4 linked regions of the Homo sapiens genome follow. The protein of the gene in region 2 interacts with the protein of the main gene of each other region in a pairwise test. Each region holds a gene or a part of one and is shown on either strand. Other genes may lie near its edges.

Evidence for each region.
Region 1: the proteins of AP3M1 (region 2) and TRIM9 interact in binary tests that used the Homo sapiens proteins (3 or more experiments, as listed by UniProt).
Region 3: the proteins of AP3M1 (region 2) and IL36RN interact in binary tests that used the Homo sapiens proteins (3 or more experiments, as listed by UniProt).
Region 4: the proteins of AP3M1 (region 2) and TRIM14 interact in a two-hybrid assay, tested with the Homo sapiens proteins (one large-scale study listed by BioGRID).

The regions. Positions count from the first base shown.
Region 1 is NC_000014.9:50,981,701-50,990,470, reverse strand, and holds part of TRIM9 (E3 ubiquitin-protein ligase TRIM9), read left to right. Parts: intron 1-4,304; exon of another isoform or gene 4,305-4,326; coding exon 4,327-4,515; coding exon of another isoform or gene 4,516-4,547; exon of another isoform or gene 4,548-7,049; coding exon 7,050-7,091; exon of another isoform or gene 7,092-7,189; intron 7,190-7,505; coding exon 7,506-7,529; intron 7,530-7,971; exon of another isoform or gene 7,972-8,148; intron 8,149-8,367; coding exon 8,368-8,671; intron 8,672-8,770. UniProt on the Homo sapiens protein: E3 ubiquitin-protein ligase which ubiquitinates itself in cooperation with an E2 enzyme UBE2D2/UBC4 and serves as a targeting signal for proteasomal degradation.
Region 2 is NC_000010.11:74,132,156-74,140,053, forward strand, and holds part of AP3M1 (AP-3 complex subunit mu-1), read right to left. Parts: intron 6,777-7,898; exon of another isoform or gene 6,651-6,776; intron 6,228-6,650; 5' UTR 6,225-6,227; coding exon 5,952-6,224; intron 4,649-5,951; coding exon 4,477-4,648; intron 2,010-4,476; coding exon 1,872-2,009; intron 1-1,871. UniProt on the Homo sapiens protein: Part of the AP-3 complex, an adaptor-related complex which is not clathrin-associated. The complex is associated with the Golgi region as well as more peripheral structures.
Region 3 is NC_000002.12:113,055,044-113,064,319, reverse strand, and holds the start of IL36RN (interleukin-36 receptor antagonist protein), read right to left. Parts: upstream 5,123-9,276; 5' UTR 5,079-5,122; intron 4,909-5,078; 5' UTR 4,882-4,908; coding exon 4,853-4,881; intron 3,469-4,852; coding exon 3,383-3,468; intron 2,197-3,382; coding exon 2,069-2,196; intron 1,868-2,068; coding exon 1,643-1,867; 3' UTR 1-1,642. UniProt on the Homo sapiens protein: Inhibits the activity of interleukin-36 (IL36A,IL36B and IL36G) by binding to receptor IL1RL2 and preventing its association with the coreceptor IL1RAP for signaling.
Region 4 is NC_000009.12:98,083,843-98,090,194, forward strand, and holds the end of TRIM14 (tripartite motif-containing protein 14), read right to left. Parts: intron 4,164-6,352; coding exon 3,628-4,163; 3' UTR 511-3,627; downstream 1-510.

The sequences.
Region 1 (8,770 bases), on a different chromosome or scaffold from region 2:
ATATATGACACTGATTTTCTCTAAATTATTATTTTTCTTATGGTTGAGTCTCCTGCCAACTTTATGTTTCCCAACGGCTCAATTCTACTGCAATGTCTGGCACATGACAGGTGTTCAATAGCGTTGGCTAATGAACAAATAAAAGAAATATATGGGCTGGGTGCCATGGCTCATGCCTGTAATCTCAACACTGGGGAGGCTGAGGTGGGAGGACTGCTTGAGGCCAGTGGTTTGAGACCAGCCTGGGCAACATAAAAAGACCTTGTCTCTACAGAAAAAATTAAAATTGGCCAGGTGCAGTGGTATGCACCTGTAGTTCCAGCTACTCAGGATGCTGAGGGAGGAGGATCCCTTGAGCCCAGGAGTTCAAGGCTGCAGTGAGCTATGATCAACACCACTACACTCTAGCCTGGATGACCAAGTGAGACCCTGTCTCTAAAAAAGAAATAAAGAAACAAAAGAAATATATGGTGGCCAAACAGGAGTACATCACCTAGATATTCTCAGTCAATAATACAAGTGGTCCCCAGCCAATCTTTGCTTTGTTGATTCTTGATTGCTTTTTTTAAGCAGAGGTCTCTGCCCTTATCTAGACCCTAACTCCAGACTCCAGCCAATCCTAGTGAGGAAGGGAAAGAAGTCCAGGAAAGAGCAAGAGGAAAATGATGGTCATTGACAGAGTTGATGGAAAGCATATCTTGATACGTATTCGTTACGAACACAGTCCCGTCCTAGAGTTATAGTTATGCCTAGAGTCACCACATTTGGCCATTGACATACTGTTTTCCATTGCTCTTTCCTGCTAAACTGCTTTCATTCAGCAAAGCTCTGCAACCACACGGGATCCCTGCGTGTGATGAAATATGATGTGATGTTAAACGTCTCTTCAGGAGCTCCTCATTTTTCTCTAGTGATCTATAAAGTTAAAAATTAATAATAATTATTATCCTGCATATTAGCTGTGACCTGAAACATAGCTTTGTATCATGTATTGTGAAAAAAAAATGACAACCTCATTCCTCTTTGTCCTTAATAATAGAATATGAATGGCTGAGAAGCCTTCTCCATATTGTGATAGTTGTGTTTTGAAGGGGAGGTGAGGAAGTAGTGTGTGCCTTCTTCCTGCATCCCATGGGCATAACGCAGAATACGCACTTAAGTAGGTGTGTGCACATTCAATGTGTGTTAAGTGTGATTCGGCTAAACCAGGGAGTGGCAATACTGTTCTCAATGTTGTCATATTGTCTTTGATTCATGCCTTTGAACATGTCCAGAGGGCATGACCAGGAGAGTAAAGGATTTGGAATCCATACATAGTGAAATGGTTGGACATTGACTCTATTTAGCCCAGAAAAGGGAAGATTTAAAGAGGATTGGTGACTGGCCTCAAATACTTGAAGAACTAGTGATCTGTTCCATGTGGCCCCAGATAGTAACGCTACAATTGGAGAGTGGAGCTCCCAAAGAGGTATGTCTAGACCAATATAAGCAATAACTGCCAACTAGAGGGAGCTGGCTGGAAGCAATGAGTTCCTCATCCCAGGGGACTTCAAGGGGAAGCTTGATGGCAGCTCCTCTGATGATATTAAGTTTCTTCCCTCTAAGACTCCTGAAATCTAAGGTAATGTGAAGTGGTATAGATGACTTACAGGCAGCTGACCCAGCATGTGCACTACATGCCCATGGGGAAGGGCATGAAGGGAGAATTGCTTGTTTAGTTAAGCTGGGATCAGTTGGAAAGTGTTTCTCTCTTGTAATTCATTTGAAAAGTTCTCATTGCAAGGTAGGATTTTTTTGTTGTTGTTAACAGCTACTTAGAGAAAATACGGTAAAAGCCCAGCTGGTAGGTAATGGGAGGTCATAGATGGGGAAAAAACTCAAAAAAAAAAAAAAAAAGAAATGGTTGTACAGTATGGATGTTAAATAAACTTGCCTGATTAGAGTGAAAGGAGTCAAGGAAAATTGGGTCATCAGTAAACAATGGATCCACATGGAAGGATAGGAAGAGCCATAACCATCTTAATGCCAAGTTACTAATCCCGTGAATAACCATAGCTACCCTCAGTCCCCACCCTATAAAGGGGTGTCATCACCTACTCTAAGTTCTTCTTGGTGCTGAGAATAGAAAAGGTAAGTACAATTTATGATGGGATTGGATACACTCCCCAAGGTCTGTGTTCAGTAAACATCTCTTCACTGGTTTTCAGATAACTGCTTGGGAATTCAATGCACTCTGAAATTCATATTATTTTATATGTCCTTTCCATTAAATTTTAAAGCAACAAATATTTTCAATATCATGAATTGACTGTCACACCTAGTGAAAAATACATTTCCAAGCAAATTCTTGTTAATAAAAAAATCTTTTAGTCCGGGTGTGGTAGCTCACGCCTGTAATCTCAGCACTTTGGGAGGCTGGGGCAGGCAGATCGCTTTGAGCTCAGGAGTTCAAGACCAGCCTGGACAACATGGCAAAACCCCATTTCTACAAAAAATAGAAAAATTAGCTGGGCGTGATGGCTCACGCCTGTAGTCCCTGCTACTCTGGAGGCTGAGGTTGAAGAATCACTTGATCCAGGAAGCAAAGGTTGCAGTGAGCTGAGATCGTGGCATTGCATTCTGGCCTGGGCAACAGAGTGAGACCCTGTCTCAAAAAATAATAAATAATACTAAATAAATAAATAAATAAAATATTTTATTGACATAAATATAGTTGTAAATGCCTTCGCTCCATAATAGAAACCCATGCCAGTTTGTGGTGCTTGGGTGTTGTATTTTGAATTTTTCTATTACACTCAAAGGCTAATTTCCCCTTAAGATGATTATAACAAATAATTTTTGATTTATCATATCTGAAGAAAGAAATGATAATACATGATATTAAGTCATTCAAACCATATGAAGTTTAGGTAGGAGAAAAATGTATTCTTAGTGGGAACACAAAGTCTTGACTCCATAAATAGCAATTCCTTTTCTCTGAGATCTGGTTTATACTTTCATTTTTTAAAAGTCATCCCCCCACAGATAAGTCTAAAGCCTGAAAAGCTAACTTTAATATTGTAAGTTCAGAGGCTGACTCTTGGAGGTATTAAATTAAAACTTGCCAATGCCCTTGTTCAGAGCTCTTCACATAGGATGATATTCTGCACACACACGTGCTCCAGTTATTTTTGCTTCAACATGCGAGTAACATTTTGATAGAAGTGTATGTCCAGCAAAGAATTGCTGCTAACTGATTCAAACCAGAAAAAAATTCACGGAAATACCCTCTGGTCACAGAAACAAAATTATTATTTCAATGAGAAGAAAGTTCCTTTGTGATTTTGGACATGGCATATTACCTTCCTACCATCTGTATTTCCTAAATTATTGCTATTAGACTGAATGTTAAGAAGGCTTCAATTGGCGAAAGATCCACCTCTGACTAGACCACACCGTGCATAGAACCAGCTATTGTTTGACAAAATAGAAAGGACCAATTTTAGTAATTCAGAGAAACTAACTCATGCCCTTCTAAAACCAGATCAAATAATTGTTAAGTCTTTAGTCTGATATAATAATTATCTTCAGGCCAAACCTGACTATCTGAACAGAAACAGATATTTTGCCACCAATGCACCTCACCACTGCCTACAGTCTGTTTATCATTAGAGAAACAAAGATGGTCAAGTGACATCCCTAGAGTCTGATCATAATTCAGAAACAAAGGTAAGGCTCTTTCCCTGCTTACTTGTCCAGCCCTGTCTTCCTTAGACCACCCCACATTTCCTCTCCTATTCAAAGATAGAGTCTGGAGTGTGCTAGTATAAAAAATCAGCTCATCCATCTAATAGAAAAATACACATTAGGAGAGAAATGGGAAAATATGGAATAGGAAACAGTTTGTAAAAAATCACCATCTCTTAGATAGAAACCCTTTAAGAGGCCATTGTTGAATAGGTAGTAACTCCCAGGACAACTGAAGGGGGTAAAATAATATCCTCTTGGTCATCAATAGGTAAAATTTGCCTTTACATTTTGTACATTCAATTCTAAAAGTATTTTATTTAATTAAAAGGAAACCTTCCAATTTTCTACCACTAAAAATCGGGAAAGTGACAACAATTGCCTTTGTTGTTCGAGGTGTCCTCTGGTCTTGGGTCCTGATCTGCCGAAAATTCCCTCCCTGCCCCCAGGCACATTGGTTTTGTAAATGCCTGAGTGTGGCACCCTGTGGGAAAGATGAGGCTTTGTATGAATGCATTGTTAAGGCAGGTCTTGGGGAACCGTGCACGGGGACATAATAGCAGACTTCTGATCTCTAGTTTGCATTGATCTTACATTTAGACACAGATTCAGAAGAACAGACCCTCCCTTTTCCAGTGCCTTCGGAAAGATTGCCGCTCCGTAGAATGAGTCCTTTCTCCTCCACCCTTAATCTACAACCCAGCTTCCCCGGGAGATCCTACTTTGATTTCCGATCCTCACCCCACCAGCTGAGCTTGCATTCCTCTTTACAGTCTCTCAATGCACCGGGTGAGCTGAGCTCCTCAGACCTTTCCCCTTGATCTCTGTGCCTTGAAGGCATCTCTGAAACGCGTGTCTTGTTCTTGCCATTCATGTGCGTGGTGAGGGGGATGAGCTAGTCTCTGTCTGTGGCCTGCTTTCCGTATGAGGAGCATCGGGATGGTGGAGCTTTGTGGCGTTCTTGTTTGTGTGGTGGAAGGAGCAACCATGGAGCTGTGGTCCATGTATTACGGCATTAGAAAGTGATGAGTGAAGTTATTCTTTTCGCACAAGCTGGTACCACCATGGATAACCCGCTCTGTCATCACATGCAGTGGCATAGCACGGCACGGGCGCTGGCTGAGTGGCGGCCATGGCAGTAATGTGGAGGTTTGCAGCCCTTCTGTATCCAGGAAACCAGCAGTGTCTGGGAGACTGGATCAGTGCATCCAGCCTGGAGTGGTCTGATTAAACATAGACTCAAGAGATCTTTATTGACAAAGTACAATAAAAGTAAAAACACACCAACAGCAGAAAGCATCCTATAAAGCAGGCAATCCAGAGAGCAGAAAGTGAAAGCATTTTCTGCAAAAGCCTGTGCTCACTGCTAGGACAGTGGGGCTCATGGCTGAGTGTTTTCCTAGCAATGGGGTGGGATCACTGCTAGCCGAATTAGAAACCCTTAACTCCTAATGCCTAATGACCAAAGATCTGAGTAATCAAAAAGTCTGGACTCCTCGAAGTTTCCCACAGCCAAGCTGGTTGTGACAGAGCCTAAGGCTGATTTCAGCAAAGCTAGACTTGTGTTCCTTTGTAGCGAACACTGCCTAGCAAATAGAATGTTAAAATATATAAGATGCAGACCTATTTGATCTCTTCAGGACTATATTGTAATCATGGATACACATGATGCACATTTCATATTTCCAAAGGTTTCTTTTGGTTTTTATTTTATTCTTTTTGCTCATCCCACATTCTGGAATGAAGAAGGCCACAGCATGACAGTGCAAAAAGGATGCAGGGACTTCAAGCTGTCTTTAAAATGACATTCTTCTTTGTGCTTTTATGTTTCTTATTGTTTTTCTGTGCACTATGGCTTCCCAACATGCTTTGTTATGAAACTCTTTTCCCTTGTGTCTAATGTACTGAAATATCGTTACAGTCTTTGTAATGCACATTGTCTCAAGAATAAAATGAAATGTGAGTTTTGGGATATTTGATGGGTGTATTTAAGAGCATTATTCTAGCTGTATTGTTGAATCTTAAATGTATGATAATGTATTTAAAGTAGTGTAAAAAGATTTCAGAATATTTGTTTTGAAAAAGAGTTGCACAAGGCATGATTCATTTAAAAGTTTTTAAAGCCCTATTCAGATTCTACAAACTTATTTCCAAGCTGAATATGAGAGTCGGTTTTAAAACTCCAGGTATTCCATAGTCACTATGCTCTAACACATGAATAGGAATTGAAGTGATAATTGATAGAAACAAAACATAAAAATCAGCCATGAGATGGGAGGAAACGATTCTTTTGCATGTGAATTCATCCCAGAGAAAAGCAAACTAACCAAAAGTAAGATCATAATTTTTATATTTTGTTTTTAACTCAGCCATTAGTCCTTTTTTATAGTAAGTTGCTTTTTTAATTCTTGTAAAATTCTTTTAAGTCAGCACATTATCCTGCAAATGTTTTAGGAATTAGCATATAAAGGCCTTACTAAATAGAAAAGAAAATAAAATGATCCTTTCTTTATCCCCCAGTGTTCATCAAAACCACATTTTCTAGATCAGTCCTTGAAACCACTGGAAATTGTAGGTCACACACTTTTGAACATTTTAAGACTAGGCAGTCTTCCTCCACACAATGTAATTTCTCATGGGGTACAGGTATCCAAATCTTAAGGAAGGGAGATGGTTGAAAAAGTTCCACAGGGGATTCCAATGTATCTCTGAGACCACACCCACTCCTACCATCCCTCCTCCCCTCCCTCAGGTGAGAAGGATCTTGTCTCCTAAGAAGGAAAGGAGGCAGTTTTAACACATTCGTCATGTCATTATTAATAATTATTAATAAGATGTATGTATTCACAAATGGATTACATTACACATTTAGTTATATTTAATTTGGGCTCAAGTCACAATGAAGACCTTTTGGCATAACCAGAGTTAGAAGTGCATAGAATAGTGAGAGCAGAGTTTTATCAAAATCCAGTGATTTCTCCGTTGCAATTAAGTACATTTTCCCCATTTTTAAAACAGCTAGCCTTCTTACTGTGGAAACTTTAGAGGAAAAGATTGAACTTGGAAGATGAAAAATTCAGCTACAGAGTTTAGGATCAATTGGAGGAGGATTTATTAAATGGTAAAAAGATGTGCTTTTCATTTTGAAAGAGCAGAGGGGCAGTTTTTTACCCAACAAACTAAATAATATAAAAAGGGCTTTGTTTTTTCATGGATCAGGCCTCTGGTATCTATATTCAACTGGTGCTTTTTAAGCGTATACAAGTAATTTTTATCAACCTGGTTGTTGTTTCATAGCGTTGATGTGTAGTATCTCTTTATAGGATGCAATTTTGAGACACAATCTGCACCTTACTCTCAATTAGGCAAGTATACCTATTGTAATTATCTTTTACTTACGTGATTGGTGTGCTCAATTTCCTTCACAAAATAAATGGCGGCAACTTGTCTTATGTCAATAAAATTGTCTAATTGTCATTCTAACCCTATTATAGCAGTTTCTCAAACTCTTAAAAAATGGAAAAGATGCCTGTAGTGTTTAATGTTATGCCTCAAACCTTACTTTTCCCCCAGTTTTCTTTTACATCAGTGCAAAGCACTCTTTATGAGCACTAAATGTGGGTAAAGGTACAAGTCAGAGAGCACCTGTTTAGTATATGTGGCATTTTAAATTGAGTCCTTTTGGGGTACTAGTCTATCAAGAGAGACACATTTTCTTATCCATGTCAATTTTGCTTCCTATCTCTCTCCCCCATGCCTTTCACTTGGAATGACAACAGTTGACATTAAAAAGCTGTTGGCAGGTATGGAATAACCTTATTCTGTTACCAAATAGCAAAGACCAAAGTGCATGTGAGGTGTCTCACAGGTTTAATAAATCAGCAATTACATCTCTCGAGTGTGATATTTATAGGTGGCATTTAGAACTTGGGGCGTAACAATGCGTACAAAGACATCATTCTATCTGCACCTAATGTCCGAAATTCCTACTGCTCCAGCAAAATTTCTGACGTGTTAGTTTCAGGAGTAGCACGCAAACTGTGTTTTTTAAGTTATGCAGACAGCAACCTGTCCTACATGCAAGTCACAATCACTCATGAAAATTAGTTTATGTTGCTTATAGCTTCGCAGCTTGTGAGCTTTCACTAGAGCCGAGGAAGACTTCAAAGCGACTAGATGTTAGCACTTCTGCCGAAGGGATATTTCCTGATTTCACTCCATGTGTTTTATCCCTCCTCCATCTAGGACTCTAGCTCCTAGCCTCCCCGCCTCAGGGGTTACACAGGCATCTTAGCGCATCCCCTCTCCCTTTATGTCTCTGGTGCACTGTTCTGCCAGTCACCAGGTGAAGGGACTTGCACCTTCCAAAATCGATGCCACTTCACTCCCGGATCACCTGGTTGGGAGTGCAGTCTGAGCCAGGTAACCCCTGCTGAATCGGTCGTGTGTCCTCCGTCTGCTTCTGGTGCAGAGAGTACCAACTCCCAGGACGTGCCCCTGTCTGCCCTGGCCCTGGACGCCTCCTTCCTGCATGGCAGCATGAAAACGCTACACAACGCTCCTCACCCGCCCAGGAGTATGTTATGGTGCTGAGCTTGTTGGGTCTGTCTTAATAACCTGATTCCCTTCTGTTGTTCCCAGTGGCCTGGTTTGCTTTCGACCCTGGCTCGGCGCACTCGGACATCATCCTCTCCAATGACAACCTGACAGTGACCTGTAGTAGCTATGATGACCGGGTGGTGCTAGGGAAGACTGGCTTCTCCAAGGGCATCCACTACTGGGAGCTCACGGTAGATCGCTATGACAACCACCCTGATCCTGCCTTTGGTGTGGCTCGCATGGACGTGATGAAGGATGTGATGTTAGGAAAAGACGACAAAGCTTGGGCAATGTATGTGGACAATAACCGGAGCTGGTTCATGCACAACAACTCGCACACCAACAGGTACCCTGCAGCCCCCAAACCAAGCCTTCTTCACGTTGGCTTCTGATCAGGAGTGAGAGCCCCAGTTCAAAAACCTATTACATAGACCACATTCAGGAA
Region 2 (7,898 bases):
GCCTCCCAAGTAGCTGGGTTTACAGGCGCCTGCCACCACGCCCAGCTAATTTTTGTATTTATAGTAGAGACGGGGTTTTACCATGTTGGCCAGGCTGGTCTCAAACTCCTGACCTCAAGTGATCTGCCTGCCTCGGCCTCCCAAAGTGCTGGAATTACAGGCGTGATCCACCATGCCCGGCTGCTATTTTTAATAATAAAATTTTACGATTCTTATAGAGTACTATTGTTTTGTCTGGTTAAAAAGATAATCAGATTGGGTGTGGTGGCTGATGCCTGTAATCCCAGCACTTTGGGAGGCTGAGGTAGGTAAACTGATTGAGCCCAGGAGTTCAAGACCAGCCTGGGCAACATGGTGAGACCCTGTCTGTACAAAAAAAACAAATAAAAGTTAGCCAGGCATGGTGGCGTGTGGCGTGTACCTCCTGATTGGCTGGGACTATAGGCTACTCAGGAGTTTGAGGTAGGAGGATCACATGAGCTGGAGGTCAAGGCTACAGTAAGCAGGGACTGCGCCAATGCACTCCAGCCTAGGCAAAAGAGCAAGACCCTGTACTTAAAAAAAAAAAAGAAAGTGAAAAATAATCAGATAGGGGCTTTTACCAGAAGTACTGCACATAATGTAGTAGCAAAAGCATGGTATATAGCAGATTTTCAATAAATGTTAGAAGGAATAAATAGCAAGAGGTAGAGGTACATAGGGTAATAATTGGCTTAAAGTAAGGCATTATGAGTTCTGATTTACATGTTTGGCAGACCTCAACTAGTGGTTATGAAAATTATATGTAACCTATGGGCAAAATAAACAGATTTATGGGCCAGGTGCAGTGGCTCACGCCTGTAATCCCAGCCCTTTGGGAGGCCAAGGCAGGTGGATCACTTGAGGTTAGGAGCTTGAGACCAGCCTGGCCAACATTGTGAAACCCCGTCTCTACTAAAAATACAAAAAATTAGCCAGGGCCGGGAGCGGTGGCTCACGCCTGTAATCCTAACACTTTGGGAGGCCGAAACGGGCAGATCACCTAAGTTCAGGAGTTCGAGACCAGCCTGACCAACGTGGAGAAATCCCATCTCCACCAAAAACACAAAATTAGCTGGGCATGCTGGTGCATGCCTGTAATCCCAGGTACTCGGGAGGCTGAGGCAGAAGAACTGCTTGAACCCGGGAGGCGGAGGTTGCGGTGAGCTGAGATTGCACCATTGCACTCCACCCTGGGCAATAAGAGTGAAACTGCGTCTCAAAAAAAAAAAAAAAATTTAGCCAGGTGTGGTGGCTCATGCCTGTAATCCCAGCTACTTGGGAAGCTGAAGCAGCAGGATCGCTTGAATCCAGGAGGTGAAGGTTCCAGTGAGCCAAGATCATGTGATTGCACTCCAGCCTGGACAACAGTGTGAGACCCCGTCTCAAATAAATAAATAAATAAACAAACAGATTTAAAAATCATCAGATAATGAATGCCTTTCCACCGAAACCATACTGCCAAAGGACTTCAATTTTCTTTTCCTTTCTTCTTCTTTTTTTTTTTTTTGTTGAGACAGAGCCAGGCTGGAGTGCAATGGCATGATCTTGTCTCATTGCAACCTCTGCCTCCTGGGTTCAAGCAATTTTCCTGCCTCAGCCTCCCGAGTAGCTGGGATTACAGGTGCGCGCCACCATGCCCGGCTAATTTTTTGTATCTTTAGTAGAGACAGAGTTTCACCATGTTGGCCAGGCTGGTCTCGAACTCTGACCTCATGTTCCGCCTGCCTTGGCCTCCCAAAGGGCTGGGATTACAGGCGTGAGCCACCGCGCCCGGCCAGGACTTCAGTTTTCTATTCATCTGTGTCAGATGAATTGTTTTTCCCCAAATAAGATGACATGCACACAATTACCTGATTTATCTATAATTGCGTCTATTTCTTCAACAACATCAAAATAGGCTTCATTGTTTGTGTACTTTACCCCTGCCCGACGCCATGGTATGTTGGACAGCTGCCCGGTGGGGAGTGTGTCCCCAACATTACTACTGCCTAGAAACCAAAAAAGGAGAAGGCAAAGCTGATGTATAAAACAGTCATGAGAAAATTTATTACTAGGAAAAAAAAAGCTGCTTCTTCAATGTTTGGATTTTTCTTAATGAAGTTGTGGATGGTCACTAGAATTGTCAGACATATCCATACCAACATGATCAAATTTCTAGAAAAGAAATATAGGCCATGTGGCCCTCTGTCTACCTGCCAAACCAGGTTAAATTTATTTACTTATCTTTTGCCTCCTGTGTGTTAACAGTAATCTAATCTAATTCCAGTGGCTCAACAACAGAATCTCTGCCACTGATGAAAAAAGAGGTTGGTTGTTTCAAAACCTTCTGCCAATAAAATGTCTCCAGTGAGAATACAGAGTTATAACTAGGCCCTTCAGTATTCAACTTTATTTTACATGAGATGCTGCCAAGCACGCCTCAGTGGAGTAAATGGAATCTGGCCTTTTCCTATTTTAAGGTCAGCATACCCATACGGCTGCAATATAGCTAGTATTCAGTATCCAGCTCATTTCCTGGTAAACTGACACATGCCTAAAAATAAGTCTGGTTGTCCAAAACACATATCTTTGAGCTGTGACTTACTTAATATTTTGGTTAATTTATATTTCCCATTCGAAAGTACTACATACTTAACAACAACAAAAAGGTAGAGTTCAGAGAAGTGGTTTAAAGAAAAACACCTGTCTTCTTACTAACAAAATATATCTACCATTAACATTTTTGTTAATATTATGGTATTAACATTTTAATATAATATTAACATTTTGGTATATTTCTTTGAATATTTCCACCACCAGAAGGTTGCATTTTTTTCTATTTTGATAATTTTGGTTTTTAATTGCACTTTAAAATATAGTCGCAATCATACTGTATCTACAATTTTGCAGTCTACTTATGATTGGTGTTCCTACCTGCAACCTATAATCATGTTATCTTCCTGCTCAAAAACGTTCAATGTTTGCTCACTGGCTTTATGATAAAAGCTAAATATTTATCCTAGCTTTGAAGGACTTTCTCTACTTTTTAATTTGATCTCTAACTTCTCAAGTGAAAAACAGTTCTGCTTCTGCTAAAGGGATTAATAAAACTTTAGGTTTTTCTCTTTCATGTGTGTTTTTTTCTCATACAGTTCCACCATGGAGAATGCTCTTATTCCTTCCTCACTTCCTGAATTCTACTGATTTTCCAAGGTGGCCACCCACCACAGTTCAGGAGGGATTACTTCATTAATGGAACCATTCTCTTGAACTTTGTAATACACTATCTAATGAATCTGTTATGTTTTGCATTATATATTTTAGTAACTTTTCTCTGACTATAAAATACATGTTTATTTTGGAAAATTAGAAAGTATAAAGCAAAAATAAATATAATCTGTATTTAGCTGGGTATAATCATTGTAAATACTTTTTTGTCGGAGTGAATATTTATATATAAGAATAATTTTTTTCAGTTTTGTGCTGACTTTTCAATTTAACGTTACATCATGTGTATTTATTTTCCAATGCTATTACTTTATCTGTGAAGTATGGAATTGCTTTTTAAAGTCTTATACAGTTATTTACTTAATTTTTTTTCCAATGTCCCATTCAGAGTATAAGTTTTAGGAGTACAGACACACCATCTTATCTTTCTTTGAATTTCTCCTAACATTCGTCCTTACACAAAGGATGAATAAAGAGCTGCTGAATGATCTTTTTCTTATAGGCCTCTCTCACCTCATTTTTAGGTCAAGGCACTGGACAGGGGTTTACAATGGTTGACAGTGGAGTTGGAGTGGCATATAACATTTCATAGGAATCTTTGTCTAAAAGACTTTAATGCTTTCGAAAGAATATTGGTATCTGGATGTGCCTAATTTCTAGCTACACTCAAGAATTAAACCCAGCTGGAAGCTTACAACACAAGTACAGGCCCACAATGCATGAGATCTCATAAGTAAACTATTTCCTATTTTTTCTTAATACATCTTCTGAATGCATAAAAACAAAGACTTGGAGGAGATTGTAGTACTGTGTGGTTAAGCGTCTTAAATTTTCTATTCTCTAGTAATTGTGGAGTAGCAGCATACCAGTTATGTAATGCTATTTTAAATATTAAAATGCCAGTCTATAAATGGACTAAATTCTCTTCTAAGTGGGCTCATATACTGGCTTCTTTAGGAATAACTGGAACAATTTATTCAGTCTTAGTATTTAGTGTTAAATAATGGTAATAATATTGTTGTGGTGTTTTAGAAAAAAAAAAAGAGTAATAACCAAAAGTTCTTTATCACTTAAGGTCTAGCCTCTTTCCATGAAAATAAATATATAGTACATCCATTTTAACTTTACCAGTAACTTTAATTATGGCCAAATTGTACTACCTTAATAATATGTCAGATCATGAGCAATAATGAGTTGTTTACAAAGTTTTAATTGCTCAGTTACTAGCACAGTATGTTTTCATCTTACCTGTAATAGAGTTGACAACAGAGCGTAGAATTGTTGGTGGTTTAATCAATTCTTTCAAAATGTTAGATTCGGTAGCCAGTGGAAATCCATTGTCTAACATTTCTTCTAAGAGTTCATATACTATGACCACATTATCCTTAATTGCAGCCTCTGAACACTCACCAAAGTAGTCCTGACAAAATACACACAAAATATCACACAATGGAAGGCAAAAAGAAAGGCCTGCTAAATACTTTTTGTTCTGAAGAATAAACTTAGAGTAGCATAATTCATTGCTTAAGCTGCTGAACATATATAAAACAGAGCGGGGGAAAAAACCCTCTATAGTCCGGGCATGGTGGCCCATGCCTGTAATCCCAGCAATTTGGGAGGCTGAGGCGGATGCATCACTTGAGGTCAGGAATTCAAGACCAGCCTGGCCAACATGGTGAAACCCTGTCTCTACTAAAAATACAAAAATTAGCTGAGTGTGATGGTGCACACCTGTGGTCCCAGCTACTTGGGAGGCTGAGGCGGGAGGATTGCTTGAACCCGGGAGGCGGAGGTTGCGGTGAGCCAAGATCATGCTACTGCACTCCAGCCTAGGGAACAGAGTGAGACTCCGTCTCAAACAAAACAAAACAAAACAAAACAAAACAAGCAAACAAAAAAAACCCCTCTATAGTCCTAATATTATTCCTCAATATTTTCTTGATATTTCTAGGTTGAATTTAATTCCTATTACATATTATACCAGAAAGTATTGAAACATTAAATTGGAATTTGAGCTATAAACTTCATTCACCCTGATTATCCCAAAATACATATAGATAAGCTTAAATTATTTGGTATATTCCGCAAGACAAAATAATAAAATGTAAATATAGAAGAGTTCATAACCAATGAAAATCTTGAGACCATTGAGAGAACTGTATGCGGAGGGCATTATTGTTTCCTGATGATATACAGTCATCCCTTGGTATTTGTGGGAATTAGTTCCAGGATCCCCTGTAGATACCAAAGTTCACAATTCTCAAGTCGCTGACATAAAATGGCATAGTATTTGCACATAACTTATACACATCCTCCTATATACTTTAAATCACCTCTAGATTACTTGTAATATCTAACACAGTGTAAATGCTATGTAACTATTTGTTATACTGTATTGTTCAAGTAATAATGAGAAGAAGTTTGTACATGTTCAGTTCGATTTTTTTGTTCAAATATTTGCCATGTAAGGTTGGGTGACTTTATGGATGCAGAACCCATGTATATGGAGAGCCAACTGTAATCTGTAATACATATAAAAAATAGTGAATAGAGCAGCCATGTGTGTAACTGTATACCACACAGAAAAGGGCTTATGAATTTACGCTTAAACAGAGAGAGACAGACAGTAAACATCAAAACCTGGGTAATTAAATAATATAATCATGTCTCACCTTCAGCTAACTTGGGTCATTTAACTTAGAAAGGTATGATAGATAACCAACCTGAAAAGTGTCAGCAACTCGATGTAGGAACTCAATTACAAAGAGAGGTGGCACTTCGGTCTGTATGACAGATACAAAGAAGAGCTTATCCCGGTAGATACTGATGAGGTAGTGGTGAGGTGTTGAAATGACAGGTGGTACATTTTCAACATCAGCAGCTTTCTCTTGAGCTTCAAAGAAATAATCACAGACAGACTGGCTCACAACGCTCTTCCAGTGCTTCTCTAGAAATATGTCACCGGAACAGTTTATGAGAAATAGACTGTGGATCATTTTCTGTTGGGGCAAAGAAAGGTTTAAATTTATTATACATTAAATATCATTTAACATACACAAAAAGATTATACACCTTGACCAAGTGGGATTTATTCTAAGAATGCAAGGCTGGTTCAACATACAAAAATCAATCAACATGATATACAATAAGAACTAAAACAATCATTTCAAAAGGTGCAGAAATTGCATTTGACAAAATCCAACATCCTTTTACGAAAAAAAAAAAAAAAAAAGAAAGCCATTTAAGAACAAAAAGAAACTTCCTCAGCCAGGCTCAGTGGCACATGCCTGTAATCTCAGCACTTTGGGAGGCTGAGGTGGGCGGATTGCTTGAGCTCAGGAGTTTGAGACCAGCCTGGGCAACAGGGCAAAACATCATCTTTACAAAAAATACAAAAATTAGCCAAGCATGGTGGCACTTGCCTGTAGTCCTAGGTACTCAGGAGGATGAAGCAGGAGAATTGCTTGAGCCCAGGAGGAAGATCGACGCTGTAGAGAGCTAAGATTGCGCCACTGCACTCCAGCCTGGGTGACCAAGTGAGACACTATCTAAAAAAAAAAAAAAAAAAAAAAAAAATTTCCTTAACCTGATGAAAACCCCACAGCTAATATTATATTTAAAGGTGAAAGACCGAACACTTTCTCCTTAATAACAAAACCTAACAAGGATGCCCAGTCCCATCATTTCTATTCAACATGGTACTAGAGGTTTGAACCAGGGCAATTAAGCAAGAAAATAAAACAAAAGGCTTCCAAATTGGAAAGGAAGAAGTAAAACTGTATCTGTAGAAGATACAATCTTATATATAGAAAATCCTAAGGAATCCACACACACACAAAAAAAAACCTATTAGAGCTAATAAATTTAGTTCAGCAAGCTTGCAGGACACAAGTCAATATAAAAATCAATTATATTTCTATCCACTATAGCTATAAAATACTAAAAATGGGCTAGGCATTGTAACTCATGCCTATAAACCCAGCACTGTGGGAGGCTGAGGAAGGAGGATTGCTTGAGCTCAGGAGTTTAAGACCAGCCTATGCAACATAGTGAGACCTCATCTCTATTAAAAAAAAAAAAACAAAACAAAACTGAAAATGAAATAAAACAATTTCAGGCCGGGCGTGGTGGCTCATGCCTATAATCCCAGCACTTGGGGAGGCCGAGGCAGGTGGATCACCTGAGGTCGGGAGTTCAAGACCAGCCTGGCCAACGTGCAGAAACTCTGTCTCTACTAAAAAAAAAAAAAAAAGGCCAGGCGCGGTGGCTCACGCCTGTAATCCCAACACTTTGGGAGGCCGAGGTGGGTGGATCACGAGGTCAGGAGATCGAGACCATCCTGGCTAAGACGGTGAAACCCCGTCCCTACTAAAATTAGCCAGGCGTGGTGGCACGCACCTGTAGTCCCAGCTACTCAGGAGGCTGAGGCAGAAGAATCGCTTGAACCCGGGAGGCGGAGGTTGCAGTGAGCCGAGACTCAAGATTGCACCACTGTACTCCAGCCTGGGTGACAGATTGAGACTCCATCTCAAAAAAAAAAAAAAAAAAATCCCAGCTGCCTTTTCGTGGAATTTGACAGGCTAATCCTAAATTCATAAGGAATTGAAAAAGATCAACAGCCAAAACAATCTTGAAAAGGAACAACAGGGGCGAACGGGGTGGGGTGCGCC
Region 3 (9,276 bases), on a different chromosome or scaffold from region 2:
AGAGCTGCTGTAACCAATTATCCTTGGTGGCTTAAAACAGCCGAAATTTATTCTTTCTTCGTTCAGGAGGCTGGAAGTCTGAGATTAAGGTTTCAGCAGAGCCGTTATCCCTCTAAAGCCTCTAGGGAAGAATTCTTCTTTGCCTCTTCCAAGCTTCTGATGGTTGCCACAATCCTTGGTGTTTCTTAGCTTGTGGCTGCAAAACTCCGATCTCTGCCTTCATCTTTACATAGTCTTCCCCGCATCTCCTCTGTCTCTGTGTCCTCTCCTTTTCATACAAGGAAACCAGTCATATTGAATTTAGGTCTACCTTCATCCAGCATGACCTTGTCTTAACTAACTACATCTGCAGAGACCTTATCTCCAAATAAACTCACAGACTGAGATTCCAAGAAGGATGTGAATTTGAGGGGGACACAATTCAACCAGTACAGCAGCCTTCTTAGAGACTGGATCCAATGCCTTGGAATCCCAGGGGCTGTGATCCTTCTAGGAAAGAATTACCAGATGATTTTTGTTCTTTAAGTTCCTTACCCAGAGATTCCAGCCACACAAACTCAGCACAGCCTCCTCCTCAGTGGCTTTGCTGAGATCTGTTTCCTGATCACTACTACAACCAACCAGAGCAGCAGAGCTCGATTCAATTTGAATTTACTCTGGGGAAGTGGAGGCTGAGGACAATCAGAGATGATGTCTACTCTGCTTACCTCAAGATTAATTTCTTTTCTTATTTTTATACAAGGAATTCATCTTCATTGTAGAAAAATTAGGAAATACAGGTAAATTAACAGAATTAAAAGAAAAATCACCTATACTGCCACCACCCTGACATTGCTACAATTGAAGTAAACTCTTCCAGACTTTTTTCTATAAAGAAATATATAAATAGGTATCTTTTAATTAAAATAAATTGCAATATATGCCACTTTGTAAGTAGGTCTTCTCAATATGTCATGAGCACTTTTTCATGGGAATAGAGACCAGCATCTGGGATTTTGATTGTATCTTGGGTTTTTAAAAGAGGATCAGCATACCCTACTTATCTTTTATCTTCTGAGCTCGAGCCATTTCTTCTGACATCAGCACCTCCTCATGCCCACAACAAGATGATGAGGGAAGAGATAGGAAAGGTAGCATATGACAGTGGCAGGATTAAAGGGAAGGAGGTGGGGCTGGGCCAAGGGCCATAGATCCCTGACTCTATGACCACCTCCCTCTCCTGCATAGTGGTGAGTGACAGGTCTTCATGTGGAGAGCTACTGACCCTATAAGGCTCAACTGGGGATGGGTTGGCCTGCGGGGCTCAGGGTAACACTGGTCAGTTACCATTAAGCAGGAATGATTCCCACCACTCCCCCACCCCACCTCCACAGAAATCTTTTCATGTTATTCCCAGTTTACCCCACATGGTTTTTACAAGATTCCACAGCAGTAGCACCATCCAGTGGGGGAGGACCGTGGACTGAGCTCCAAATCTCAGAATTTATCCAAACTGGGAACCAGAAGACAAAGTGGTCAGGTGCCCACTAAGTCAGACGTGGGGGTCCTGAGAGCAGAGAGAGTGATTGTCCGCCATGGGTCTCCTCCACTCACCCCTCACCCGAGCTGGCTCTGCCCAGGGAGTTCTGGGGGGCACGTTGCCCTAGTCACACTGCTGGAAGTAGAAGTCTGTGATGGGGGCATTCCAGCCACCATTCTCGGGAAGCTGGGTGAGTCTGACAGGCTGATCGGCTTCAGGCACCGTGCACAGGAACCAGCCCGGGTAGGCAGCCGACTCGAAGCTGGAGGTGAGCCCCATGTCCCGCCGGTAGAAGGTGAAGCTCTTGGATTCCTTGGCACCAAGATAGAGCTCCATGATGTTCACTGGCTGCCGGCAGAGGAGGGGAGGTCAGGTGAGGGCAGAAGCAGGGGCAGAGGGAGGGCTGGGCAGGATCCTTAGGGAGGAGGCAAAGCTGCCATCAACAGAATCCTGCTAGGGTGTCCCACAGCACCAGGGCTGTGGGCTGCCCGGCTTCAGTAGGCTCAGCATCTGTGGCTGAGTCCCCAGTGAGGATGCCCCAAGTCTCACCTCTAGTGTTAGAGTCGGCTCCTGCCCCACCCCACATGACAGGCACTGGCTTCCACCCTGGACACCCAGGATGACGGGGGACAGGCTGGCATCCAGCCACCGATTGGGGACCACGCTGATCTCTTCACCTGTGGGAAAGAGGCCAGATGCAGGGCCCTGGATGCCTTTCCCTCCTTCTTCCCCTGTCCTGGGCTCTAGGGCACAGGACTGCTGTAAGACGGCCTGCCCCCAGGCTGGGCAGAAGGGAGGCTTCTCAGCAGCTGTCATGACATGGCTTCTCCTGTCCACTGGCTCAGAGTGGACATCAAGGCATGGAAGCACATTGTACCACCTCCACTCCACCCTCTAGTTCAGGGTCAAATCTTCAAGCCTCTACACCCCAAAATAGATTCAACCCCCTCCTTTAATGTCCCTTGGGTCTCAGGCCTTTTTCTGAACCCTGTCTTGATAAGCCCCCCTTTGGAATTGTTTGGACAACTTTCTACACCCTGTGATGTTGCTGAGAGCAAAAGAGGGTCTCATTCCTCTCTGTACATCCCCTCACCACCCACATACATCAGATACATACATACACAGATACATGCATGCACACATATACATATACACACACATGCTCATACCTACATACCTGCACTCACACATACATGGTTACACACAGATACATGCATGCACACATGCTCACACATATATGCCTGCATGCACACATACATACACCAGTAAGCACACACATACACATATGGCCTAGCTGAAGGATCTACCTGGCATCTGTGCTCAGCAAGGGTGCCCCAGGTGGGCAGGTGCAAACTATTTTAGAGAGGGACGTGTTGCAGTGCATGGGGCAGAGTGAGCAAGCAGGAGGTCCAACAATGCCACCTGTTCTCTGGGTCCCTCCACTCTAAGTGACTGAGGATCTTCAGAGAGCAGAGGGGACCCAGGGTGGAGAGGCAGAAACCCACTCCCATATGGGAAAAAAGGTATAGAGAATCTACGTTAGTTCTCTCCTTGGTACTTACTGGCTCCCAGGGAATGCAATGCTTGACCTAAATCTACCTGTAAGGGAATGACAAGACAAGCCTCTTGGAAAACATTCCCACTTCTGCATAGAAGCTTCAGGTGGCCCCAGAGCCTGTGTCTTCACTTTGCTGAGAGGTGTAGTATTTTATTTGCCTTTGCTTAGAGCCTGGTTTGTGCTGCCCCAATGCCTGGGCTCTGTAGGCCTATGCTAATCTGTATGACTATTCTAAGCCCTCTTCAGGCCCCCTCCCCTGAGAGTGTATAGAGACCAAGGAAAGTGGGTCATGTTTCATCACCAACCTTTAATGACCTTCCCTGCATGCAGCCCTCCAGCTAGAAGCTGGTTATTATGCAGATAAAGCACCTTCAATGCCGAGTCCTTCATTCTGAAACATCAGGAAGGGGTGAGGACTACATTAGGAGGAGGGTGGACACTCCAGCATGCCCTGGATCCAGAGAACCCCCTGATCTCAGGCATTTTGTCTCTCTTTCTTCCTACTGTGCCAGAAGTAACAGCACAGCCTTGTCTCCCAGCCCTGCTGGGCTCATGCCCTACAAGGAGGATGACCCCACAGTCTCCCACTGGAGTCTGTGGTTTGCTCCTTCACCCTATTCAACCTTTTCTGCCCCAACCCATCTCCTGCTGGAAGAGAAGCTGCACGGTGAGTCAGAGCCCTAGGTTCTTGCCCCATCTCTGCCTCCAATGCTGCTGAGTCGCAGGAGACAACTCTCTCGCCCACTCTGGGCCTGAGCCTCCCCATTGCTACACTAAGATGATGGGTTGGATAACATCCAGGCCTCTTCCACGTTAAAGCCTGATTCTTCAATTCTTCAAGATACATGTATTTCTATTTGGTCATATATTCCTTACTAAGTGAGGAGTTTCTTTAAATTTAAATTTCTTTTATTTAACTTTTCAAAGTTGTTTCTCATCTTTGAACTCAGTTGATTTCCTGGCATCCTATGAGGTGGAAGATGTATCCTAAAGTGGGTTTCTCCAAAAGTTATATGGGGGAAAAGGATGCAGTGTAAAAATTGGGTCGATGCATGGCTAAATACAATTCAACAAGTTGCCTTACTTCAGAAAACCTCAGAGTCACTCATATGCTGAGCTGGGCTGTGGTTCTCTTATGAGAGGATGTAGAAAGCAGAATTCCCTGCATTTACTTGATCAGAGAGCTCCACTGTGTAAAGCATCTCCTGGATGCCTCTGTGGGACTCCTCTAATCGAGTCCCATAGAACACATCATGGGAAGTGCTTTATTAGACTGAGAGAAAGGACCACTCTCATCCTCTGTTGTAAAGCCCAGAACACGGCAGAGTGTCTGGCTTGGTACATGCCAGTGGGTGGACAGACTGACTGATGGTAATGGTTTTTGTTTTATTATTATCCCCAAAGAGTAGCAGGGAGGCAGGGGCACAGAGTGGGTGAGCTTACATCCATTCACTGTGATGGGGGACAATGGCGGAGCTCTGAGCAGGGATCCTGGCCCCCGTTCCCACCTTGGATAGACTTGGCTGGAGCTCTAGACTGGGAGGTTCACTTATCCCCCTCAGCATCAGGGACCCCTTGTGAGATGGCCTGCCCCAGTCCTGCCCCTATTTGAAAAAGGCTGGGAAAACTCTAAGAGCAGTGAGGTGCTGGTCACAATTTCCCAGCTGCAATGGCAGCCCCTCCCTTCCTCCCTCCTGCTCAGAGCTGGACAACGGGTCTATCCAGAACTCACTTCCTCCGGAGGACACCACCAAACCAGGGCCTCATACACTCACCGGAAGCACAGCGCCCCACTCAGGACCATCTTGAGCTCCACAGGGTGTAGACTCCCCTATTTTGGAATAAACAACAGAAAATCATGGAGAGAGAGGCTGAGTTGGCTGGGGTCTGGGGAGCAAGCAGCTGCACCGAGCTCCCCAGCATGTGAACAGCCTCCACGGAGCAGATTCTGGGTCTGGGGTCAGGAGAGAGCTCCGGTACCACCAGCGCCCCAGAGCATACCTCAGAATGTTCCTTTCTCCTGGCGGGAGCTGTGGAGTCTGCCTGTTCCTCCAAGGATGCCTCAGCCTTTTAAGTAAGGCCTAGGGAGGGGCCCTGAAACTGCCAGGACCTGAGGAGGAGCAGGATTCCCAGCGTGATTTCACATCACCCTAAGTCGCCAGAAGCACTTGCTGCTCATTATCTGTCGTGGGGAGGGAAGCTTCTGGAGACAGTTTCCTTCCAGAAATATTGAAGAACTTCCTTGAGGCTTTCCAGCTCTTTGTGAGCACTAGGCTTTTGCATCTCAGGGGCTTTCAGACCCTAAGAGTCAGTGCCCATGGCAGCTCAAGGGAAGCGCGACTTTCTTTCCTCCCTGCCTCCCTCCCTTTCTTCCTTCTTTCCATCTTTCATTCACTCACTCCCTCCCTTTTCCCTTCCTTTCTTCCCTCCCTCTTTCCTTCCTTTCCTTCTTTCCCTTCCCATTTCCTCCCTTCCTCCCCTATTCCCTTTCTTCCTTACCTTTTTCACTCCTTCCTTCACTCCTTCCCTTCTCCCTCCTTCCTTCCTCTGTCTTTCCTGCCTGCCATTGCCAGGCCTACAGGAGATGTTAGAGGTGGGACTCTCCTGCTTAGGGAATGTTCAGCCTACATGTTCATTGTAGAAAAACCTGAAAATCCAGATCAGCCACAAGAAAAAATGTGAATACTTGTCTTTTCTGAGTGCATCATCAGAAAACCAATGACAACACTATTTCCTCCACACACATACACATGTAACTATAGACAGCTTTCATACAACAGATTCACAAAACCTATACTTTTTCCAACCTCATTTTTTCATGTGGCAAAATAGCAAAATATCTTTCCATACTAAATATGAATAATGACATGCTTCAATAGCTGTATAGTATTTAACTGTATCACTGTAACATTATTTATTGAAACCTATCCACTGTTATTTGTCTTTTATATATTTTTCTCTCTTTTTTTGCTATTGAAAACCATGTTGTGACAAACATCTTTGTATTAACATCTTTGCTCATGTATCTGGTTATTTCTTTAGAAAGTAAAATCTAGCTCATGCCATCTATAATTCTGTAAGTGATCTTTCTTGAATACCTAATTGATAAGATAATACTTAATTGTGAAACAGTTAATGCAGTTTAAATACCTCCATGCACTCTCTGTGATGGATCTGAAATAAAGGTAAGGGTCAGTGCACAAAAAACAATTTAATTATATCTTGAATAACACAGATAACTATTTATTAATAATTTATTGTTAAAGCATACACTTTTTTTTTAAGTTTTATTTTTCTTTTTTCTTTTATTATTATTATTATACTTTAAGTTTTAGGATACATGTGTACAATGTGCAGGTTTGTTACATATGTGTACATGTTAAAGCGTACATTTTAAAGAAATGGTATTCAGACATATGAGCCAAGAGGTCCTACAAGTGTTCAAGAATAAATAAAATATCAAGTTGTTCAAAACACAGAAAATAATCTACGATTTTCATAATGCCACTAATATGATAGACACTTTTCAGAAAAATAAAATTAATGTAGAAACTGCCTTGTACAAAATTATTAAATTACAAATTGACCAAATGGAATGACAGTAGAAATAAGATGAAATGAGACAAGCCTGGCCAACGTGGCAAAACCCCATCTCTACTGAAAACACAAAAATTAGCCGGGTTGGTGGTGCACATTTGTAATCCAAGCTACTCAGGAGGCTGAGGTGTGAGAATTGCTTGAACCTGGGAGGTGGAGGTTGCAGTGAGCCAAGATTGAGCCACTGTACTCCAGCCTGGATGACAGAGAGAGCTAGACTCTGCCTCAATAAATAAATAAATAATAAGTAAAATGAAACTATGACTGTGTATACTGTCAATATTATATGAAAACATTATCAAACAGGCCTCACCAACAATAAGTTCTCTCTGGACCTATCCCTTTGCTTGACTTACTAATTAGGTCTCAGACTCTGTGAAATTAGCCATGAACTAAGAGAACATTGATAAATTACACATTATTCCTGTCTGATAGAAAAGATAACTCCAAAGGGTGCAGTTTTATTGCCTCACAAGTCATAAAGCTGTCTTTAAAACGTAACTTAGCCAACCTATTTCAGCCTTTATTTCTTGACTGACGGTATAAGCCTCCATTCCCTGAATTATCTTTTGATAATCAGCTTTATAATCTTGCTGATTCCCTCACTTATGAAAAATAGTAAATCTTTGACACATGCTCACTATATGTGTGTATGAGAGTCAAGTTTTGAACTTCTGAAAAATAAACTTTGGCACTACCTAAAGACAATGCTGCCAATTCGCAAACCATGTGTGGCTGTTTTAAAATATGTCCATAAATTCTTGGAAACTTCATCTTTAAGAAGGTGATATGGTTTGGCTCTGTTCCCACCCAAATTTCATCTTGAATTGTAGCTTCTATAATTCCCACGTGTCATGGAAGGAACCCAGTGGGAGGTAATTGAATCATGGGGGCAGGTCTTTCTTGTGCTGGTCTCATGATAGTGAATAAGTCTCACAAGATCTGATGGTTTTATACAGGGGAATTTCCCCACACAAGCTCTCCTGCCTGCCACTATGTAAGACATGACTTTGCTCTTCTTTCATCATCTTCCACCATGATTGTGAGGCCTCCCCAGCCATGTGGAACTCTAAGTCAATTCAACCTCTTTCCTTTATAAATTACACAGTCTTGGTTATGTTGTTATTAGCAGCATGAGAACAGACTGATATAGTAAATTGATACTGGGAGTGGGGCGCTATGTTACATGATGAACATGGCAGCATCATAAAAGGCATTGCAATTTCCTCCTAGCTCTTAGATCACTCACCTGGACAAAGCCAGCCACTATGTGATAAGGACACTCAAGCAGCCCTATGGAGAGGCCCACGTGGTGAGAAACTATTTTTTCCTGCCAACAGTCTGTGAATGCACAATCTTAGAAGCAGATCCTCTAGCCCCAGTCAAGCCTTCAGATGACTGCAACCCTGGCTGACATCTTTCCTGTAACCTAATGAGACACCCTGAGCCAAACCCTCCAGCCAAGCCAGTTTTCTCATTCCTGACTCTCAGCCTTTGTTAAATAATAATTTTTTCTTGTTTTAAGCTGCTAACTTTGCTGATACTTTGTTACACAACAATTGGTAACTAACACACCTTGACATCACTATTGGCATTTCAGCACTTTAACACTTTGCCTGTTACCCAGCAATTTGGAACTGGGTAAAAGGCAGAGGTTGGAACAGTTTGGAGGGCTCAGAAGAAGATAGGAGGATGTGGGAAAGTTTGCAACTTCCTGGAGACTCACTGAATAGCTTTGACCAAAATGCTGATAGTGATATGGACAATAAGGTCCAGGCTGAGGTGGTCTCAGATGGAGATGAGGAACTTGTTGGGAACTGAAGCAAAGGTGACTCTTGTTATGCTTTAGCAAAGAGACTGGCAGCATTTTGCCCCTGACCTAGAAATCTGTGGAACTTTGAACTTGAAAGAGATGATTTAGGGCATCTGGCAAAAGAAATTTCTAAGCAGCAAAGTATTCAAGAGGTGATTTGGGTGCTGATAACATTCAGTTTTATGTATTCACAAATATATGGTTTGGAATTGGAACCTACATTTAAAAGGGAAGCAGAGCATAAAAGTTTGGAAAACATGCAGCATGAAGATGAGATAAGAAAAACCTATTTTCTGAAGAGAAATTCGAGCTGGCTGCAGAAATTTGCATAAGGAAAGAGGAGCCAAATGTTTTTCACCAAGAAAATGGGGAAAGTGTCTCCAGGGCATATCAGAGGTCTTCACAGAAGCCCCTCCCATCACAGACCTGGAGGTCCAGGAGGAAAAAATGGTTTCATGGGCCAGACCCAGGGCCTGGCAGCTTTGTGTAGTCTCAGGACTTGGGATGACTTGCATCCCAGCCACTCCAGCTTTGGCTAAAGAGGGCAAAGGTACAGCTTGGGTCATGGCTTTAGAGGGTGTAAATCCCAACCCTTGGCAGCTTCCATGTGGTGTTGAGCCTGTGGGTGCACAAAAGTGAAGAACTGAGGTTTGGGAGCCTCCGCCTAGATTTCATAGGATGTTTGGAAATGTCTAAATGTCCAAGCAGAGGTGTGCTGCATGGGCATAGCCCTCATGGAGAACCTCTGCTAGGGCAGTGCAGAAGGGAAATGTGGGGTGGGAGCCCCCA
Region 4 (6,352 bases), on a different chromosome or scaffold from region 2:
TGCTTGAGACCAGGAGTTCAAGCTATAATACGATCTTGGATGGGAACAGGTGGGAGTCAGGGTTTGTTTACACGTAAGTGAGAACTTTAATGAGTTATCTTCAGAAGCAGTGAATGCCCCATCCCTGGAGATAGTTAATCAGGGAGCAGCTGACTACTACCAGAAGGCTGCGTAAGGAATAAGATATGAGTAAAGGCCCTTCTGGGTCTGGGTGCTAGGGACTTGAAGCAACATGAACTGGAGGGAGCTGTGATGTGGACACGCTGAAATCGGTGGGGAGGAAGCGGAAGATTCAAGGGACCTCAAGAGACAGAAGAGTCAGGACTGGATGACTCCCATTCATTCACAAATGTTTACTGTGTGCCTACTATGTGTCAGGTTCCTGTGCTGTACGAGGGAGAAGGTTCCCAGGCTGCGGATGATGTATTCAGGATGCTGAGGGCTTACCTGTGGGGGTATCACTGGGTGCTAGGGACTTGAAGCAACATGAACTCCCAGTGAAGACCATGGTTAAAAGGGACATTATTCACATTTTATTAAACCAAATATTAGAAAATTGCTGTCATTTAAAAATATCTGCAAGCAATTTGCCATATCAATAAAGAAATGTCTACAGATTCAAGTCTGAAAGAGAAGAAGGTAAGTGATCAGTAACCCTTACAGACATGGAAACCAAGGAAGCCTCATTCCTGTGCTGAGAATATTCTAGTAGCTCCTGCTGCTGCCACATGGCAGCTGGGAATACCAGTAGTCTCAGCACTCGGTCAGTACCGTGCAAGCTCCCTTGGGAATGCTGATAAATCCTGGCATGATACAGCAGTATATATGTTTTTTTTGTTTTTTTTGAGACAAGAGTCTTGCTCTGTCCCCAGGCTGGAGTGCAGTGGTGCAATCTCAGCTCACTGCAATCTCCGCCTCCTGGGTTCAAGCAACTCTCTTGCCTCAGCCTCCCTAGTAGCTGGGATTACAGGCATGCACCACCACGCCCAGCTAATTTTTGTATAGGACTATAGTTTTAAGGCAAGTTTATAACCTTTGGCTCATTTGAGCCTCACAGCACTTGGTAGGTAGTGCTATTATCCCCATTTTATAGATGGCACTGAGAAGTAAAAAGTGACTAGCCCTGGTCACACAATTGATATGGACTGAAACTGCCGCTTTCTGGCTATCACGGGCCTTGACACAGCTAGTTTGTGACCTTTACAGTCTAGCTCTGTCTCTGCTACATGAATCCCAAATTTTTGAATCAAGTTCCCCTCTGGGCCATAAGGCCTCATCTCAGACCCCCAAGGAAGGCAGTCCAAAGGTAGACTCAAGTCTCGCAGAGTAACCAGGCACTAGGAAAGCATCATGGGCAGTAGCTCCACGAGAGGGGCCAGAGCACCAGGCACTGGCCAGAGACCAGCTGCATTCACCCTGAGCAGTAGGGCCTGGTGGCCATGAGCACAGACCTGGAACTCACAGCCTGGGCCCAGACTCCAGCTCCACCACTAGCTGTGCGACCTTGGGCAAGTGACTCTGGGTCTCCATTTTGCCATGTGTAGAATTGGGAAAACTTTCTACCCTCTAGGGCTGATGAAAGGATCAGATGAGTTTAGTCGTAAAGCATTAAAACAGTGCATTATAAACTATTAAGAGCTGTTATTACTTGGCCCCTGCAGCTGTGGGTCTGGGAAGAGGTCTTGGTCATCAGGGATGGGCAGAAATGTTGGGGTCAAGTGTATTCATCTTCCCTCTGTCAGGAACACCCTCTGCCTGTCACAATTCAGTTTGGGCCATTCCTAATAGAATTAATTTCCCCTTTTTCTCAGGATTCCTGCAGCATAGTGCTTAAAACTCTGTCCAGCCAGAGTTTTAAAGTCTTTGGTTAGAAGTTAAGGTGTTTGCAAGGTTCTGTCTGCCTGGTATTCTGCTACATTGTCTCATATCAAAAGTGCCATTTTTAACTCAAAAACTATTGAAAATTGTCAGTTTTATATGGTTCAAACTAATGCACTGAAAGTCTATTTAAACCACGAGGATTCGGCGACCTTGGCCTCCCACCAAGCACCTATGAAGATGCTTTAACAGAATATAACTTCAAAACCGTCTAGGGAATTGACAAAACAGGACGCAGAACCTTCAGAACGGAGACACAAATCCCTGGAAAGAAGCCTCCCACTCCCTGCTAGCGAAGGTGGCCTCCTGTGAGGGCCTACTGTTTTCTACCTCTGTCACTTCATTCCAGACAGCTGGGCACTCTGGGTTTCCTTGGCAACATCTGGATCTAAGGGTGCTCTTACCCTTTTTGTCCCAAGACAGTTGGGAAACACCACCCCCTTTGGTTGCTTAGCAACTGTCACCTGCTGATTCCTTCCCAAAATCCCCTGAGAAATGAGTAAGCAGGTTGAAAGCTGGGCCTAAGGGCTGGGCCAGGGGACAGGTCAGATGCTTGCCTGGGGGTGGGTGAACGGGGCACACGTCTGGCCCCCCTATATCACCCCGGGGTAACTTTACGCAGCTCTGCTTTCTTTCAGGACCTCAGACTCCCCAGATGAGATCTGGCTGGGTGACCTGTGAGGCCCGCCTAACTCAGCTCTTCTGTTACTCAGTGATAGGCACCTGCTGGTTATTAATTCACTGCTTGGGAGGGAAGGGGCTTTCTGGGAACTTTTCAGGGTGGAGAGAGTATAGGACAAAGCTGCCCTTCCAAAGCCTCCAATTTAGTTGGAAAGACAGGTCCCAGATTTGTGGCTCTGATAGTGAGATTCTTGTTCCTTGGTTAGACTTCCTGGCGCAGGTAAGCCTGCGGAAGACTGAGACAGGTGAAAAGACTTTTCTGCATGAATGTGCTGGCAGCAGAGAGGTGTGGAGGTGGAACTATGCGACACATTTCTGACTGGAGAGTCTCTAAGAAGAGTGGTAGGAGCTAGGTGAGGATAAGTAATTTTGGGCAGACTAGACAAGCCTTGAATGCTAAGGTGAGGCGCTTGTATTTTTTTTTGTTATTTCATGGAAACTCCTGGAAGCCTTTTCATAGCTGAGGGGTTAAGTGAAGTTTTAGGAAGATCACTCTAGTTTTAGGGTGGAAGATGAGGACTGGGAGAGGGTTCAGACCAGGAACTGCTAAGAAGCTCTTGCAGCTTCTGGAGGGAGCTGTGATGTGGACACGCTGAAATCGGTGGGGAGGAAGCGGAAGATTCAAGGGACCTCAAGAGACAGAAGAGTCAGGACTGGATGACTCCCATTCATTCACAAACGTTTACTGTGTGCCTACTATGTGTCAGGTTCCTGTGCTGTACGAGGGAGAAGGTTCCCAGGCTGCGGATGATGTATTCAGGATGCTGAGGGCTTACCTGTGGGGGTATCACTTTGAAGGAACTGGATTAAAGTAGTGTAAGTGATGGTGGGGTGAGGGTGCGGAGGTCTGATGAGAGGGCAGCAGCAGACTTGTTTAGGGCCTGTTTGAAACTAGCCTAGGAGAGGAAACCTTCAAAGCACTGTAGGCGTGATTGGTCGGGGAAAGCTGGGGCAGGGAGAGGGCCCTAAGAAGCAGGCAGTAAGGGGACCAGCCACGCTGATCTAGGTAGATTAGGCGAGACTGGGCAGCTGCGGCGTACCTGGAGGCTGTCACGCCGGTCCTGGCCCCTAGGGCAGCCGGGGGATGCTGATGGCCCCCTCCCAGAGCCGCAGGGCCGGGTAGAGCGGCTCCTGGAACGTGGCGCGGAAGGTATGCAGGTGGCTCATGCCGCCCGTCACGTCGTAGAAGGCGAGGACGCCGGCCTCGTAGTCCAGGAAGACGCCGAGCCGGTCGAGGTCGTCGCGGGGCCGCAGGCGGCTGCGCTGGCCGTCGTGGAAGGCCCAGTACTCAAGGTCGTAGCGCTTGAGGCACCAGGACTGGCGGTTGCAGCCCAGGCGGGCGGCGGCCGAGGCCCCGCGGCGCCGAAGGGAGGCGTAGGCCGCGCCCACCCACCAGCCGGCGCCCGCCTCCTGCACGTCAACCTCCCAGTAGTGGCGGCCGGTGGCGAAGCAGTCACGAGCCAGCACTTGCCAGAGCGCGTCGAACCGCAGCACGGGCACGGGCCCCAGGCTGCCCAGCAGGCCGCAGCGCACCGTCAGGCGATCGGCGGACAGGCGCAGGCGCGCGTGCATCGTGTCAGGATCCAGCGTGGGCGTGCGCGCGTCTGCAGGGGGCGAGACAAGGGACGCACCTGGTGGGCGGGGCCAGCGCGGCGCCCCGCCCCCGGGAACCCACCAACGCACGTGCAAATCACAAAATGCGAAGCGCGGAAATGGCCCAAGGAAGGGGTGACAGACCCCTTTAAACCGCGACTGCCCCTGGGGCGGGGTCTTGGGGAAAGGGGAAGAAGAGATCACTCTGCTGCACATCCCTTATACTGTCTGTATTTTGTGCCGTGAAATTTGTTGCCAATTAATACAAATTTAATTAAAACTAATCCTATCACTGTTAACATTAGGGTGTGTGTACTTCCTATCTTTCCCCTCCCCTTGCTGCTTTATAGCTTTTCTTTTTCTTTTTTTTCTTTTTTTGAAACGGAGTCTCGCTCTGTTGCCCAGGCTGGAGTGCAGTGGCGCGATCTCCGCTCACTGCAAGCTCCGCCTCCCAGGTTCAGGCCATTCTCCTGCCTCAGCCTCCCGAGTAGCTGGGACTACAGGCGCCCACCACCACGCCCGGCTAATTTTTATAGCTTTTCTTAATATTGGTGTCACACCATACATGACGTTAGGTAATCTGCTTTTTAAAATTGATTGATCTACTTGTGAGGCATTTTGACACATCATAATATCCTTTCACAAGAGCATTTTAGTGGAGATTCTAAAATTTTGATGTTTGGACGCATAACTTAGTCCTCCGTTTAAAAAGCTTTTGAAACCACTAATACAATTACATTTTTACGTATCTGATTGCTTCTGTAGAATATACTCCTAAAACAGGAATTGCTGGGTCAATGGGTATTTTTTTAAGGTCTTTGATACATATTGCAAAACTATCCTCCCCAAAGTTTGTAGTGATTTAAACTCTCATTAACATTTCTCTTTGCATTACACCATGTATGTACACATGAAGTTTTTTTTGTTGTTGTTGTTGTTGTTTTTTAAGTCTGGATCACAGGGTATGTGGATATTCAGCTTTCATAAACAAGGCCAAACAGTTTTCCATGGACATTTGGATTGTTTCCGTGTTGCCTATTGTGACTAATGTTGCTATAACTGTAAACGTGTAACAGAGACTGAGTTTTCTAAGAAAAAGAGCATTTTTCTAAGAGAAAGAGAATGAATTATTTTTAAGATTTTCCCCCTTTTTCTCCTGTCTCCCACTTCCTACTTAGCTCTTTATTTTTATTTTTTTTAAGATGGAGTTTCACTCTTGTTGCCCGGGCTGGAGTGCAGTGGTGTGATCTCGACTCACTGCAACCTCGGCCTCCTGGGTTCAAGCGATTCTCCTACCTAAGGCTCCCTAGTAACTAGGATTACAGGCACCTGCCACCACGCCTGGCTAATTTTTGTATTTTCAGTAGAGACAGGGTTTCATCATGTTGGCCAGGCTGGTCTTGATCTCCTGACCTCCGGTGATCCGCCTGCCTCAGCCTCCCAAAGTGCTGTGGTTACAGGTGTGAGCCACTGTGCCCTGCCTCTACTTAGCTCTTTAGAAATGTAATTATAACCATTACCTTCCCTTCACCAGATAGTCCCTACAGGGCAAACTTATCTACCTACTTAGAGGGTCTAGAACCAGAACTTTCTCCCACCAGGAGATTGCCTTAAGAGACAACAGTCAATTTACAACATAAAGTATGCCTTCAACAGAACTCTTCCACCCGGACAGCATCTCAAGACAACGGCCACATTACAACCTAGTTCTGCCCTCAATGGCACCAGCTCAACCACTTGGTAGAAAACGCATCAAAATGAGTCATATAGACCCCCATCTGCTTGCTCCTTCCCTGCATGCCATTCATACAAAGTCCCCATTTAAAAGCCTCTGCTTTCTGCCCCAAAAGTGAGGCGGTACCGTTAAGGGCAGGAGGAGCCTGTACCTCTTCCCCTAAGCTAATCTTTAGAATAAAACCACTTTCTTTATACCAGACCTCGCTCTTGTTAATTGAACTCTGCAAAGCGTTGAGCAACTGAACCTGTGTTTCGGTCACATAACATTCTTGTGCAGGTCTTTTGATTCACATATGTATGCATTTCTGTTGGATATATGTCTAAGGTGGGAGAAAATGCTGCTCATTATAACCACTTCTATTCAACAATGTTCTAAATGTAGTAGACAGTAACTCAAGGCACGAAAAAGAAGTGAAAGGAAAGAATAAAGATCGGGGAAATGAAAGATTATTATTCATAGGTG